Homo sapiens: one gene and its partner. The protein of the gene in region 1 purifies or fractionates together with the protein of each later gene. This does not show direct contact. Each region holds a gene or a part of one and is shown in the gene's direction. Other genes may lie near its edges. The genes, in order: KGD4 and SPTBN2.

What was found.
Region 2: the proteins of KGD4 (region 1) and SPTBN2 purify together in Homo sapiens (affinity purification with mass spectrometry; one large-scale study listed by BioGRID and IntAct). This does not show direct contact.

What each region holds. Positions count from the first base shown.
Region 1 is NC_000005.10:69,220,506-69,224,319, forward strand, and holds part of KGD4 (alpha-ketoglutarate dehydrogenase component 4), read left to right. Parts: intron 1-3,814. UniProt on the Homo sapiens protein: Molecular adapter that is necessary to form a stable 2-oxoglutarate dehydrogenase enzyme complex (OGDHC). Enables the specific recruitment of E3 subunit to E2 subunit in the 2-oxoglutarate dehydrogenase complex (OGDHC).
Region 2 is NC_000011.10:66,698,117-66,701,930, reverse strand, and holds part of SPTBN2 (spectrin beta chain, non-erythrocytic 2), read left to right. Parts: intron 1-209; coding exon 210-347; intron 348-648; coding exon 649-1,405; intron 1,406-2,322; coding exon 2,323-2,525; intron 2,526-2,848; coding exon 2,849-2,939; intron 2,940-3,145; coding exon 3,146-3,292; intron 3,293-3,762; coding exon of another isoform or gene 3,763-3,814. UniProt on the Homo sapiens protein: Probably plays an important role in neuronal membrane skeleton.

The sequences.
Region 1 (3,814 bases):
CAGCCGCCCCGTCTGGGAAGTGAGGAGCGCCTCTGCCCGGCCGCCCCGTCTGGGATGTGAGGAGCGCCTCTGCCCGGCCGCCACCCCGTCTGGGAAGTGAGGAGCGCCTCTGCCTGGCCGCAGTGCAATCTTCCAAGTGTGAAGTGACAGCCTTTCTGCAGGTGTACCCAACAGCTCTGAAGAGACAGCAACCATCGAGAACGGGCCATGATGACGATGGCGGTTTTGTCGAAAAGAAAAGGGGGAAATGTGGGGAAAAGAAAGAGAGATCAGATTGTTACTGTGTCTGTGTAGAAAGAAGTAGACACAGGAGACTCCATTTTGTTCTGTACTAAGAAAAATTCTTCTGCCTTGGGATGCTGTTAATCTATAACCTTACCCCCAACCCCGTGCTCTCTGAAACGTGCTGTGTCCACTCAGGGTTAAATGGATTAAGGGCGGTGCAAGATGTGCTTTGTTAAACAGATGCTTGAAGGCAGCATGCTCGTTAAGAGTCATCACCACTCCCTAATCTCAAGTACCCAGGGACGTAAACACTGCGGAAGGCCGCAGGGACCTCTGCCTAGGAAAACCAGAGACCTTTTTGTTCACGTGTTTATCTGCTGACCTTCTCTCCACTATTATCCTATGACCCTGCCACATCCCCCTCTCCGAGAAACACCCAAGAATGATCAATAAATACTAAAAAAAAAAAAAAAAATTAGCCAGGCAGGAGGGGTAGTGTGTGGGTGTGTACCTGTAGTCCTAGCTACTTAGGAGGCTGAGGTGGAAAGATCACTTGAGCCCAGGAGTTTGACGCTGCAGTGAACCACGATCACTCCACTGCACCCCAGCCTGTGTAACAGAGCAAGACCTGGTCTCAAAAAATAAATAATAAAGTAAAACATTTTCAGACTGGCTAACAAATGAAAATCCAGTGCTATGCTATTTATAAGAGGCATAGCTAAAACTAAGATTTGGAAAGGTAAAAATAAAGAGATAGTCAACTGATCTTTGACAAAACGAGCAAAGGGAATACAATGGAGAAAAGATAGTCTTTTCAACATGGTGCTGAAAAAATTGGATATCCATCTAGACACAGACCTCACGTTCTTCACAAACATTAACTCAAAATGGATCCTAGACCTAAATGCAAAATGCAAAACTATAAAACCCTTAGAATATAACATAGGAGAAAATAAAAATAACCTTAGGTTTAGGAATGACTTTTTAGATATAACACCAAAGGCATGATCCATGAAAAATTAATTGATAAGCTGGACTTCATTAAAATAAAAAATTCTGCTCTGTGAGACACTGTCAAAAAAAGGCAAGCCACATATTGGGAGAAAATACTTTCAAAAGACATATCTGATAAAAGACTATTATAGAAAACATAAGGCTGGGCACGGTGACTCATGCCTGTAATCCCAGCACTTTGGGAGACCAAGGCGGGCAGATCACCTGAGGTCAGGAGTTCGAGACCAGCCTGGCCAACATGGCAAAACCCCATATCTATTAAAAGTACATTTGTATAAGTATATAATACATATTTACATGCCTATACAGTTAGACCTAACTTACAAATGGTTTATTCACGTATTTGGCAACTGTTACTTGGGCATTTACCATGTAACAGGAATGCTACTGCAGAAGTGCTTAGTTTTCTGTCTCTGACTGTCCAGGAGCTTAGTGCTCTTCTATAATCATTGGCTAACTTATCTGTCCTCTGAAAACATAAGGAGAGTTTTTAACTCAGACTTTGGAATTTGGGAAAGGTTCTTAGAGAAGAGTGACATTTGAGCTGTTGTAAAGGATAAGCAGTCAGAAGGATAGGCATGGAAGTGGAATGGGATAGGAGGGAGATTTCATGGCAGAGGACGTAAGCTGTAGATGGAATGAGGATAAATAGGATGAATTGGGGAAAGGAAAAATACTTCAGAATACTTGGAGCAATGGGTACATAAGACAGTAGGGGAGAAAGGCTGGCAAAGTAGGGAGAGGCCAGATCACAATGGGTGTTGTGAGTGCCAAAGAAGAGTTTGAACTTTATCCTGAAAGCTGTGGAACATTTTTCAAACTTCTTTTTTTTCTTCTTTTAAGTTGTAGAGAGGGAGTCTCATCTTCTTGCTCAGGCTGGTCTCAAACTCCTGGGCTCAAGCCGTCTTCCCAAAGTGCTGGGATTACAGGCATGAGCCACTGACCTCAGCCAGTTTTCAAACTTCTAAATAGGGGAGTGATGATAGGATAGATAGAACATTCTCTTAAGAAGCTTGGCTATGAAAGTGAAGAAACAGTTAATAGAGAAGTTTTTTTTTTTGAGACAGAGCCTCTCTCTGTCACTCAGGCTGGAGTGCAGTGGCTCGATCTCGGACTTCCACTCCAGGGTTCAAGCAATTTTCTGCCTTAGCCTCCCGAGTAGCTGGGATTACAGGCGCCCACCACCACGCCCGGCTAATTTTTTTATTTTTTTAGTAGAGACAGGGTTTCACCGTCTTGGCCAGGCTGGTCTTGAATTCGTGACCTCATGATCCACCCGCCTTGGCCTCTCAAAGTGCTGGGATGACAGGCGTGAGTCACGGTGCGCAGCTTTTTTTTTTTTTTTTTTTTTTGAGACAAAGTCTTGCTCTTTCACCTAGGCTGGAGTGCAGTGGCACAATCTCGGCTCACTGCAACCTCTGCCTCCCAGGTTCAAGCGATTCTCCTGCCTCAGCCTCCCGAGTACCTGGGACTACAGGTGTGTGCCACCACGCCTGGCTACTTTTTTTGTATTTTTAGTAGAGACGGGGTTTCTCCGTGTTAGCCAGAATGGTCTCGATCTCCTGACCTCATGATCCACCCACCTCGGCCTCTCAAAGTGCTGGCATTACAGGTGTGAGCCACCATGCCCGGCCGAGAAGTTTTTTAGCATGGAAGACTTGAGCATGATTTTATGGTGAGGGAGAGAACACATTCCAGCATTTTCTCACAGCCACAGAATTACAGTGGTGAATTTTTAGGCCAATCCCATACCTATTTGCTTCTGTGCCCACATAAAATGCATAATATGTACTACAAATATATAAATATATTGCAGATAAACCCACCTCAGTCTTATTCGTTACATAGCAATTTATAGATTAGTTGAAAATAGTACTTTGTTCATTAGATTCTTAGCATTGTATATTCAGAAGATTTCATATTGACAGGTCCATTTAAGGTCCTCTGTACCACTATCTGGAATTTTACGGACAAAAATGTTAATACTTTTCAAACATCTGTTCCAAAAACAGTATTCCAAAAATATGTATTCCAGGCCAGGCATGGTGGCTCACGCCTGTAATCCCAGCACTTTGGGAGGCCGTTCGAAACCAGCCTGGCCAACATGGTGAAACCCTGTCTCTACTAAAAATATAAAAATTAGCCGGGTGTGGTGGCGGGCACCTGTAATCCCAGCTACTTGGGAGGCGGAGGCAGGAGAATCACTTGAACCCTTGAGGCGGAGGTTGCAGTGAGCCATGATTGCGGCACTGTACTCCAGTCTGAGTGACACAGCAAGACTCTGTCTAAAAAAAAAAAAAAAAAAGTATTCCTATGGGTATAGGAAAAAGACTAAAATAAAGTGCTATCAAATGTTTTAATTTGGGCCGGGCATGGTGGCCCATGCCTGTAATCCCAGCACTTTGGGAAGCCGAAGCAGGTGGATCATTTGAGGTCAGGAGTTCAAGACCAGCCTGGGTAAAATGGGGAAACTCCATATCTACTAAAAATACAAAAATTAGCGGGGTGTGGTGGCGCAGGCCTGTAATCCTGGCTACTCAGGAGGCTGAGGCAGGAGAATTGCTTGAACCTGGGA
Region 2 (3,814 bases), on another chromosome or scaffold:
AGTTATTCTGCTTGTTTTGGGGGAGTTGTGGGTTCCTTCCTTGATGCACAGATACTATGAACCTCATAGGCTGAGAGGCAGAGAGACTCCTGCAGATAAGCCTCCTGGTGAAGGAGACACCCTCCTGGGTGTTTAAGAGAGGTGGACTTAGGTGGACTGGGCACATCGCTGCCTCCCACAATTCACGCCTGGCTCTTCCACCCTCTCAGGTTCGAGACCCTGGAGCCTGAAATGAACACCCTTGCAGCACAAATCACCGCGGTGAATGACATTGCCGAGCAGTTACTGAAGGCCAACCCCCCAGGCAAAGACCGCATTGTCAACACCCAGGAGCAGCTCAACCACAGGTGGGTTTGGGAGGGCAGGACCAGGAAACTGACAGAAAAATGAAGCAATGGGGATGGCAGTGAGAGGCAGGTTTTGTAGGGCCTGGAAGGGTGGCTACAAAGGAGGAAGCAAACCAGTCTGGAATATGTTGGGGAAGGAAAAAGGATGAAAGAGATGAGAGAGGGGGTCAAGGTGGTCTGAAGCGGCTGCTGGCCAGAAAGGGAGGAGTGAAGGGGAGCTACCAAGAGAGAGAGAAGCAGGGAAGAAGCTTCCAAACAGGCCTGGCCAGGGCAGGAAGCTGAACCTTCCCCCTGCTCTCAGGTGGCAGCAGTTTCGGCGTCTGGCAGACGGCAAGAAGGCAGCTCTCACCTCAGCCCTGAGCATCCAGAACTACCACTTAGAGTGCACGGAGACCCAGGCCTGGATGAGAGAGAAGACCAAAGTCATCGAGTCCACCCAGGGCCTAGGCAACGATCTGGCTGGGGTGCTGGCCCTGCAGCGCAAGCTGGCCGGCACGGAGCGGGACCTGGAGGCCATCGCCGCCCGGGTGGGCGAACTGACTCGAGAGGCAAATGCCCTGGCTGCCGGCCATCCCGCTCAGGCAGTGGCCATCAACGCCCGGCTGAGAGAGGTGCAGACCGGCTGGGAGGACCTCAGGGCCACCATGCGGCGTCGAGAAGAGTCGCTGGGGGAGGCGCGGCGGCTGCAGGACTTCTTGCGCAGCTTGGATGACTTCCAGGCCTGGCTAGGCCGCACTCAGACTGCTGTGGCCTCTGAAGAAGGGCCGGCCACCCTGCCTGAGGCAGAGGCCCTCCTGGCCCAACATGCAGCCCTGCGGGGAGAGGTGGAGCGGGCCCAGAGCGAGTATAGCCGGCTGCGAGCCCTGGGCGAGGAGGTGACCCGGGACCAGGCTGACCCCCAGTGCCTCTTCCTACGACAGCGACTGGAGGCCCTGGGAACTGGCTGGGAGGAGCTGGGCCGAATGTGGGAGAGCCGGCAAGGTCGCCTGGCCCAGGCCCACGGCTTCCAGGGATTCCTGCGGGATGCTCGTCAGGCTGAGGGCGTGCTCAGCAGCCAGGTGAAAGTCCAGGGCAAAGTCCCAAGCAGGAGGAAGAGCAAAGTAGGGACCCGGGGAAATGTGAAGGAGCAGGATGGGCAGGAAGGACATGCTAGCAAAATGGGGCAGCGCAGTGGTTCACACCTGAAATTCCAGCACTTTGGGAGGCCAAAGTAGGAGGATCACTTGAGGCTGAGAATATCCAGACCAACCTGGGCAACATGGCAAGACCTTGTCTCTACAAAAAAATTTTTTTAAGAAAATAGAAGAATTTTTTAAAAAGAAAAATGGGAGCCAGACAGGATGGCTCACACTTGTACTCCCAGTATTTTGGGAGGCCGAGGCAGGAGAATAACTTGAGCTCAGGAGTTTGAGACCAGCCTGGGCAACATAGTGAGACCCCCATCTCTATGAAAAAAAAAAATTAACTGGACATGGTGGTGCATGCCTGTAGCTCCAGCTACTGGGGAGGCTGAGGCTGGTGGATCACTGGAGCCAGGAGTTTGAGGCTGCAGTGAGCTATGATATGCCACTGCACTCCAACCTGGGCCACAGAATGAAACCCTCTCTCAAAAAAAAGAAAAAGAAAAAAGAAGGAAAAATGAGAATGAAAAAGACGTGAATATAATTTACTAAAACTGACTTTAGAAGAAATAGAAAGCCCAGTTTGTCATGTAACTGTTAAATGGAATCAGGAGCTAGAAGTGAGATAGAACAGGATTTGGGCTGGGGAATGGAAGGTCCTTCCCACCCAGCTTCCCTGTGACTTTCTGAGGCTCCCATGCTGGCTGGCAGCCTCCCTGTCTTCAGAGCTCTCTGGGCTACCCTCCCTGTCTGCTTGTTGGTCCCTACCTCTCAGATTTGCCCCTGGGTGGGTCCCTCCTAGGGGGGTGAATTGTGCTGGGGAAAATGAGCTGAATGTCATCCCTCCCACACAGGAATATGTTCTGTCTCACACGGAGATGCCAGGGACACTCCAGGCTGCTGATGCTGCCATTAAAAAACTGGAGGACTTCATGAGCACCATGGACGCCAATGGGGAACGGATCCACGGGCTCCTGGAGGCTGGCCGCCAGCTGGTATCTGAAGGCAACATCCACGCCGACAAGATTCGGGAAAAGGCAGACTCCATTGAGAGGAGGTCTGATGAGGACAGTCCATGAATTAGGGTTCCCAGGGGGGAATCGGAGAAACAGGGTGACCTCAAAGATAAACGTGGCACAGGAAACCCACAGATGGGGCAGGAGCTGACAGAGAAGTAGAGGGGAAGAACTAAGTGGTTGGAGAGGGCTGGGAGATTCCACCCCCAACCAGGGCTAAAAGGAAGTCAGGATTCCTGGGTAGCCTCATTGTGCTCCCGGAAGGCGTTATTCCCCTAGAAGAAATGGAGGCCCCTAGGTTAGCCAAAGGGTCACAATCCTTTCACAGCAAATTCCAGAGTTTCACAAGAGGGTGTCGTTCCAGGCACAAGAAGAATCAAGACGCAGCGCAGCAATTTCTGGGCCGTCTTCGGGACAACCGGGAGCAGCAGCATTTCCTGCAAGATTGTCACGAGGTGAGGCTCCCTGGGGCCCCGGGATATTCCCTAGCCATCCCTTTCTCACCTTGAGCCTAGAATAAGTCCAGCACAAGGTACCGGAGACTGTGAGCCCCTTCATGGCTTCTTCCCAAGGCGCCCACTTCTCCTGGCTCACTGTGGCCCTGCTTTTATGCCCCCCTCTCCCCTCCCTTGGAAATGTCCCTGTTTTATGTTTGGTCCAGCTGAAGCTCTGGATCGACGAGAAGATGCTGACAGCCCAGGACGTGTCCTATGACGAGGCCCGCAACCTGCATACTAAGTGGCAGAAGCACCAGGCATTCATGGCCGAGCTGGCTGCCAACAAAGACTGGCTGGACAAGGTGGACAAGGTGAGCAGTGCTGTGGGGGCTGCCTCTGGGCAGAGTCCCCCATGGTACGGGGGAGGGCCTGGCTCCAGGACGTGGTTTTTGTCATGGTTAGAGATTGTGGGGTTCTGGTGCCACAGCTCCATGGTGGAAAGTTATGGCCTCTGGGAAACAAACGTCTTTGTTGGAGACAAAGAGTGGGACAGTGAGTCCAGAACCTTGATAAAGTACAAATTAGCAGGTAGCGAAACTGCAGCCTGGATTTAACGCCATAACTGTTCCTGAGTTCAAAGCAGGATGGTGCTCTTCAGCAGGCTCTGCAAACCTTGTCTGGAAAGGGCTTGGGCTGGATGGTCAATATCTGAGGCTTTGCAGTCCAAACAGTTTCTACTACAACTACTCATCTCTGTCGTTGTAGTGCAAAAGCAGCCTCAGAGAATAAGTGAATGAATGAACATGGCTGTTTCCCAATAAAACTTTATTTGTAAAAACAGGCAGTGGGCCAGATTACCCCGTGGGCTGTATGTAGTCTGCCAATCCTTATTT